Linked DNA regions of Homo sapiens. The protein of the gene in region 1 purifies or fractionates together with the protein of each later gene. This does not show direct contact. Each region holds a gene or a part of one and is shown on either strand. Other genes may lie near its edges.

The links.
Region 2: the proteins of AKR1C1 (region 1) and ZC3HC1 purify together in Homo sapiens (co-immunoprecipitation; one large-scale study listed by IntAct). This does not show direct contact.

Annotation. Positions count from the first base shown.
Region 1 is NC_000010.11:4,973,093-4,976,919, forward strand, and holds part of AKR1C1 (aldo-keto reductase family 1 member C1), read left to right. Parts: intron 1-2,758; coding exon 2,759-2,841; intron 2,842-3,827. UniProt on the Homo sapiens protein: Cytosolic aldo-keto reductase that catalyzes the NADH and NADPH-dependent reduction of ketosteroids to hydroxysteroids.
Region 2 is NC_000007.14:130,020,173-130,023,999, reverse strand, and holds part of ZC3HC1 (zinc finger C3HC-type protein 1), read left to right. Parts: intron 1-276; coding exon 277-489; intron 490-1,474; coding exon 1,475-1,681; intron 1,682-3,827. UniProt on the Homo sapiens protein: Required for proper positioning of a substantial amount of TPR at the nuclear basket (NB) through interaction with TPR.

The DNA.
Region 1 (3,827 bases):
GTTTATGTAGTATAAATTCCTTATATTTATTCTCTTAGAATTTTATCTTTGCGAAGTGCTTGTTTAACTCTGCCTTTTTTTTTTTGGCGAGGTGGTTGTGTGTCTTTATTTTTATGTGTAGGAGACCATATTTATACCAATACCTTAGGATATAAGACAAACCCACTTAATATAGAGGCTTAATGCAAAAGCATTTATTGAGCTCAAGGTTCCATGGTTAGAAAATTAGCCTGGGCTCAGCCTAAACTCAGTCCATTCCTTCTGTTCCTGGCTGGGCTCTCATGTGTGTTCAGGGCAGTGAGGCAGCTCTGCTTCAGGATGTCCCTGGGGCATCTGTGTGAGCGCCCCCCTCTCCCATGCAGTTCTTTATCCTCCAGCCATCCAGCCCAGGGTTCACCTCAGCACAGGGCATGACCCCAAGGCAGTGAGTGGACATGTGCAAAGCCTTTTCAGGTCTAGGCTCAGAGCTGCCAACCATTGCTTCTGGGAAATTCTATCACCTAATGCAAGTTACAGGACAGGTCAGACTCAAGGGGTGGGGAAAAAGACACCACCTCTTGTTGGAAGGAGCTGGAAATTCATATAACCAAGCAAGTGGATACAGGGACATGTGATTGTTAGAGGGCATGTTCCTAATTAATCTATCATTTATACGATATGTGTGAAATAACATATTAATAGTTATATGTATGAATATGAATATATATAAATTGATATACTATTTCATATATTCTTAAGAATACATCCAAGTCTCTAAAGAATTAATATCCAGAATACATGCATATATATGTTTTCTAATTAGTTATATACAGATATATGAAATATCATATATGATATATATTATAAAACCTATGTCACATATATGACATATATCATGTATATGTATATGTGTCACTATTTGCTAAAACATTAAGTAAAATCAGTGTAGAAATCCATAGGATACTCTGAAATAATGATACAGAGAATGAGAAAGAAAGTAAAAAATGACAATGAAACAATTGATGAATCTAGGTAATGGCATTTACTATATTATTTTAAAAATATTTTTAGACATTAGAAAACCCACAAAACTAAAAGGAAATATTATGAAATAACTGTGGAAATTATCAGTATTTATACATATGTGTATGTTCTCTAATTCATCTAGTATATATAGATATATGACATATGTGTTATATAATATATATGTTAGATTAACTAGAAACCATACATATATATGTATTTATTCTGGATATTAATTCTTTAGAGACTTAAATGTATTCTTGAAATAACATCTCCCAAATTTTACCTGTGTTGTCATATTCTCTGTGGTTATGTTTTCACAAACAAAAGTTTCTATCCTTCATGTAGACTAATTTTTCATGCCTCTTTCTTGTGGTTGGTGAGTGTTGTGTCTTATCCTATATTGGGAATATCACAATATATTACTGTGTTATCTTACAAAATTGTTAATATTCTTTCCTTATAAATTTGGTTAATTCTAATGGGATTGACTTTTTAAATACTGTATGAGATAAGGATCCAAATATGCATATCTAATTTTTGAATTTTTAGCAAAATTTCCCACCAACATTTATTGAAAAGTTCATATTTGCTCACATAACTTGATTTTTTTACCTGTAACATATATGAAATGTCCATGAGCAATTATCTGGCCTCTCTTCCATCTTCAGTTAACTTATTTACTTTTCTGTACTATGATGTTAAAAAGTAAGTTTCACTTCCAGTATGGTACAAATATTTTTCTAACTTCTTCATTTATTTAATAATATCTTAGCTATTCTTGACTAATGTGTTATTTAAAACTTTGAATCATCTTATTAACTTCCACAAGCAAATAAATGTTTAGTCTCTTGTTGACATTGTAATAAGCCTCCAGATCAATGTGGAGAGAACTAAATGTTTGACAATATTGAGATTTCCAATGCATGATCATAATATGAATTTCCCACTTATTAATAGCCTTTTAATAAATATATAATTAATTTCATAACTTTCTCTGTTACTGATGATTTTAATAGTTTTTGATAACTTTTCATTTTTGTTTTATGGATTTTCTAATATATAGAAATATTAAAAGAATAATGCAACAAATCTTCTTACCTACATTCATCAAGTGTTACATTGCTGTCATTTTTTACTCTCTTTCTCTCATTTTCTGTATTACTCCTTCAGTTTCCCTATGGATTTATACACTTATTTGATTGAATGTATTAGAAAGAGTGACATCTTTTTGATATTTAGAGTCTCCCAAATTTACATAGTGAGAGTACCCACACCTTTTGAATGTGAAATCGTTAGTATTTAGACAATTATTGGCTTGAGTGATGTTGAAAACTAATTTTTCCTATTATACCTGTTCATTGGAGAGATAGATATTCAATGTTATTCATCAAACCTACTAAATTATGCTAGACATTACAAAATTTGCCTCTAGATTCTTGTGGGTCTTCTAGGTACATGACCCTATCATGTGGGCACAAAGTAAGCTCTGTTTCTTCTTCAGCTTCCTCTGAGATATTCTCTTCATCTGCAGTGTTGTGCAGTTTCAAAATATTTTATCTGGGAATGGATTTCTGCTTATTTTTGACTGGTTTTCATTGACCACTTGGGTGTTTAGAGAGGTCTTTCATAAATTTTGGAAACGTATCAATCTTTTAAGTATTGTCTCTGCACCCTACTGTCTGATGAACTTGGTTGTTCCCAATTGGCAATGATGTAATCTAAAAATAATTAAAGTTTTCTATTACTTTGATAGGTGTTTGAATTCCAGTTGACTTCAGAGGAGATGAAAGCCATAGATGGCCTAAACAGAAATGTGCGATATTTGACCCTTGATATGTAAGTAATTTTGGAGATGGTTGTCCTAATTTATTTTCAGAGGAGGAACGTAGGATGGGTGTTGAGAGTGACCTCCACACCAGGGGCACAGAGGCCAACGTGAGACAGAGGTGAGACAGGAGCTTTCTGGAAGTCTCCTCCTGGATTCACTCCAGAGCTCTGTTCTCTGGCAGGGAGAGTGGCCTGGGGTCAGCATGGGTCAACCTGTGCCTCTGCTCTCGTGACTCCAAGGAACTTTCCAGAGCAGCCAAGATCATTGCTGAATCTGCACCTTCCATGTAGGCCTGCTGTTTGTGCTACTGTCTAGTGTACACACTGTGGATATTGCCCATGTGGTCGCATTAGATGTTTCCAAATCTGTGCTTCTATCTTGTTCTTCCCAACCTGCTCAATGTCTTACCAGATCAAAGGCAGTTCCGTCAATCTTGTGGGCCAGGTTCCAATTCCCACCTCTTTCACATGGAATTGCTTGCTGGATCCTGTCGATTTAGCATTTTTAATCATTTCAAACCTTTTTCGTGCCTGTCTTTGCATGTTTGCCCATGAGCCAAACACTGCATTTGCCTCCAGAAAGTCTGTCTTAGTGAAGCGAATAGGAGCACTTGGCCTTGGTGTTCTGCAATATGGAGATCTCAGTGCAGAGAATGAAGAAATGTTAAAATCAAATGCAGAGTGTAGATGCAAAAGCACCATTGTTGGAGATAATTTATAACCAATAACAGAAGTTTACTATTCCTCTGTGTTCTAAGGTTCTAGGATTCATAGAAGGTCATTCATATAATGAGGGAAAAAAGAAGTTATGTAACTGCTGGCAGTAGGGATTTCAACAAGTAATAGAGATGATGAGATAATGTGTGAAAAAAACAAGCACAATGGTACATCATAAGTACCCAAAATTTGGTGGATATTATTAGTAGTATTTTATTCATTTAGAGGAAAATACAAAATGAAAACGGAGATGATAAAAAGAAAAGGAAAAGTGGCAA
Region 2 (3,827 bases), on another chromosome or scaffold:
GGTGAAACCCCGTCTCTACCAAAAATGCAAAAATTAGCCAGGTGTGGTGGCAGGCACCTGTAATCCCAGCTACTTGGGAGGCTGAAGCAGGAGAATCACTTGAACTCGGGAGGCAGAGGTTGCCATGAGCCAAGATCGCCTCACTGCTCTCCAGCCTTGGCAACAAAGCGAGACTCTGTCTCAAAAAAAAAAAGAAAAAAGATTAAAGAAAGAAGTATTTCTGACCATAATCATTAATATCATTCGTGTACTTCCATTATCTCCCCTTTCCTTCAGGCTGAAAAGAGCCCTGGTCCCATTGTCTCTCGAACTCGGAGCTGGGACTCTTCCAGTCCTGTTGACCGTCCTGAGCCAGAGGCTGCTAGCCCCACCACCAGAACTCGCCCAGTGACCCGAAGCATGGGAACAGGAGACACCCCTGGCCTGGAGGTACCATCTAGCCCTCTGCGGAAAGCCAAGCGAGCTCGCCTCTGCTCCTCCAGCAGTTCGGTGAGTCCACCTCGCATGTAGCAGTGGCTGAGCATAAACAGCATATTGGGCCCTCCCTAGGCAGCATGGAGAAGCAGGCAGGAGCCCTTCCGTGGTCCAATGCAAAAAGTAGACCATGTGAATAAATTTAAAGTTGGATGACCAAAGGGAAAAAATGTCAGTCATGTTTTTTGCTCCTTTTTGTTCCTTTGGAGTGGATTCTGGAGAAATAATAGATATTTCAGGCAAATGGAACAACGGTGTGATACAGGGACAAACCTGATCTGGCAGCGGTCCCCAACCTTTTTGGCACCAGGGACCGTTTTCATGGAAGACCATTTTTCCACGGACCACGGTTGGGAGGATGGTTTCGGGATGATACGAGCACATTACATGTATTGTGTACTTTATTTCTATTATTATTATATTGTAATATATAATGAAATAATTGTACAACTCACCATAATATAGAGTCAGTGGGAACCTGCAGCTTGTTTTCCTGCAACTAGATGATCTCATCTGGGGGTGACGGGAAACAGTGACAGATCATGAGGTGTCAGACTCTCATAAGGAGCCCGAAGTCTAGATCCCTCTCATGTGCAGTTCACAGTAGGGTTCCTGCTCCTATAAGAATCTAATGCCACTGCTGATCTGACAGGAGGCAGAGCTCAGGTGGTAATGCAAACAATGGGGAGCAGCTGTAAATTCAGATGAAGCTTTGCTTGCCCGCCTGCTGTTCACCTCCTACTGTGCGACCTGGTACCCATCCATGGCCTGGGGGTTGGGTATCCCTTATCCCTTGTGATAAGGTATAGTTTGTTTAACACAAAAGGAGTGAAAAAATAAAGAAAATGAGAGGAAAATGTGTAGGCAAAGTTTGAAGGAGAGCATAAACACTCGAAGTATGGGTAGTTGTGAGATTCTGGACTTGATAACTAACAGCAGTGCCTCCCTGAACTTACATAGCATCTACCTATGAATGCTATTTCTTTTTCTCCTTCCTCAGGACACATCTTCCCGAAGCTTCTTTGATCCCACCTCTCAGCATAGAGACTGGTGCCCTTGGGTGAATATCACACTTGGCAAAGAAAGCAGGGAGAATGGTGGAACTGAACCAGATGCCAGCGCCCCAGCAGAGCCAGGCTGGAAAGCAGTGCTGACCATCCTCTTGGCGCACAAACAGTCTAGCCAGCCAGCTGAAACGGACTCCATGGTGAGATACGCCACTGCCTTGTGTGTGGGCAGCACTTGCTGTTTATGGGAGGTGGAGCAGAGGCTGGGCCTATAATTAGCACCCCGCCTGCCTTCAGCTTTCATACGTCAAGTTATTTGGGTTTTTTTGTTTGTTTGTTTGTTTTTTGAGATGGAGTCTCGTTCTTGTTGCCTAGGCTGGAGTCCAATGGCACGATCTCAGCTCACTGCAACCTCCGCCTCCTGGGTCAAGCGATTCTCCTGCCTTAGCTTCCCAAGTAGCTAGGATTACAGGCGCCCACCACCACACCCGGCTAATTTTGTATTTTTAATAGACAGGGTTTCACCATGTTGGCCAGGCTGGTCTCGAACTCCTGACCTCAGGTGATCCCCCCGCCTCGGCCTCCCAAAGTGCTGGGATTACAGGCGTGAGCCACCGTGCCCGGCTTATACGTCAAGTTAGACTCATTCTGCTTTCGTCCTAGGGATTAGGCATAGAACCGGTTCGTCTTTCTGTAGTTTAGCATATGGCATTCCGTCAAGTTCTGATAAATTCTTTTGTTCTCCTAAATAAAGTGACTCCAAGTAGAAAAGGAGTACGGAAACAGAAATAGATGAACAGGCAGCTGCTCCGGCCTCATGTTGCAGACAGCTGCTTTTTCTTTCATTTGCTGTCACTTGCACTTGGAGCCTGGCCAGTTAACTTAGCTGTTTGGAGCACTGGGCTCTGACACCAAGATGATGGCCTCATTCCGCACGCTGGGCACATTACTTTACTCTGTTCCACAGCCCAGACTGTGACTCTGCTAGCCATTGCAGCCATAACTGCTGTGGGTTACAAATGTGGGTGACAACTGAGAAGAAAAGTCAAGTGTTTGCTCTGTGTAAAGATTGGAAGTGATAGGCTGGGTAATATGGAACCATGAAAACTGGGTTCTCTCCTTCGCTGGCTCACTCCCAAATTTTCCTTGTAGCTGGTAACAATTTCTGATCGTAGTCTATAACTTTCAAGGACAAAGTAAAATAATACTTGTCAGCAGATATTTATGAGCAGCACTCCTAGATTCATGGTTTTCTAGGGTTACAGGATTCCACTGGAGGGAACTATAGTAATGCTAAAAGTCCAAAATTGCATGGCTGGGTGTGGTGGCTCACGCCTGTAATCCTAGCACTTTGGGAGGCCAAGGCGAATGGATCACCTGAGGTCAAGAGTTTGAGACAACCTAGCCAACATGGTGAAACCTCGTCTCTACTCAAAATACAAAAAAAAAAAAAATTTGCCATGTGTGGTGGCAGGCGCCTGTAATCCCAGCTATTGGGGAGGCTGAGGCTGGAGAATCACTTGAACCCAGGAGGCGGAGGTTGCAGTGAGCCGAGGTTGCGCTCCAGCCTGGGCTTCAGAGAGAGACGCTGTCTCAAAAAAAAATAAAATAAAAATAAATGTATATTAGTACCCTTAGTAAATATGCAGGTGAAGGTTTTCCAAGTTTTCACAGAAAAAAAAATCCGCATTTCTCTGCCTAGATCTTCAGGAACTAGTACATTGGCAGTTTTCAGTAAGACTCCTCTCTGTCACTGCCATACGAAAAAGAAAGCCTATGGGTTTTGTTTTTGTTTTGTAGTGGGAAAAGTTGGCCTCATAATTGGCCCTGGATTCCAGGACTTTTTTTTTCGGTAGTGTGTCTTAACCTTCTGACAGCTGCTGTGACGAAGCTAGAAAGCTTAATGAGACTGTGTGGTAAAGGATCCTGATGTTCGAAAAAAAAAAGTATATACCGAGGCCAGGCACAGTGGCTCATGCCTGTGATCCCAGCACTTTGGGACGCTGACGCAGGGGAATCACCTGAGGTCAGGAGTTCGAGACCAGCGTGGCCAACATGGCAAAACCCCATCTCTACTGAAAATACAAAAATTAGCCAGGACTGTTGGTGTGCACCTGTAATCCCAGTACTCCAGAGGCTGAGGCAGGAGAATTGGGAGGTGGAGGTTGCAGTGAGCCGAGATCGCACTACTACACTCCAGCGTGGGCAACAGAGTGAGACTCCCTTTCAAAAAAAAAAAAAAAAGAAAAAAGTGTATACTATTTTTTCAACTCAGGTTTCTTTCAACTTTGTCACTCTATTAACTAAATTTCCCTCAGTCATTAGTAAGAGTTCAAACTTTTTCCT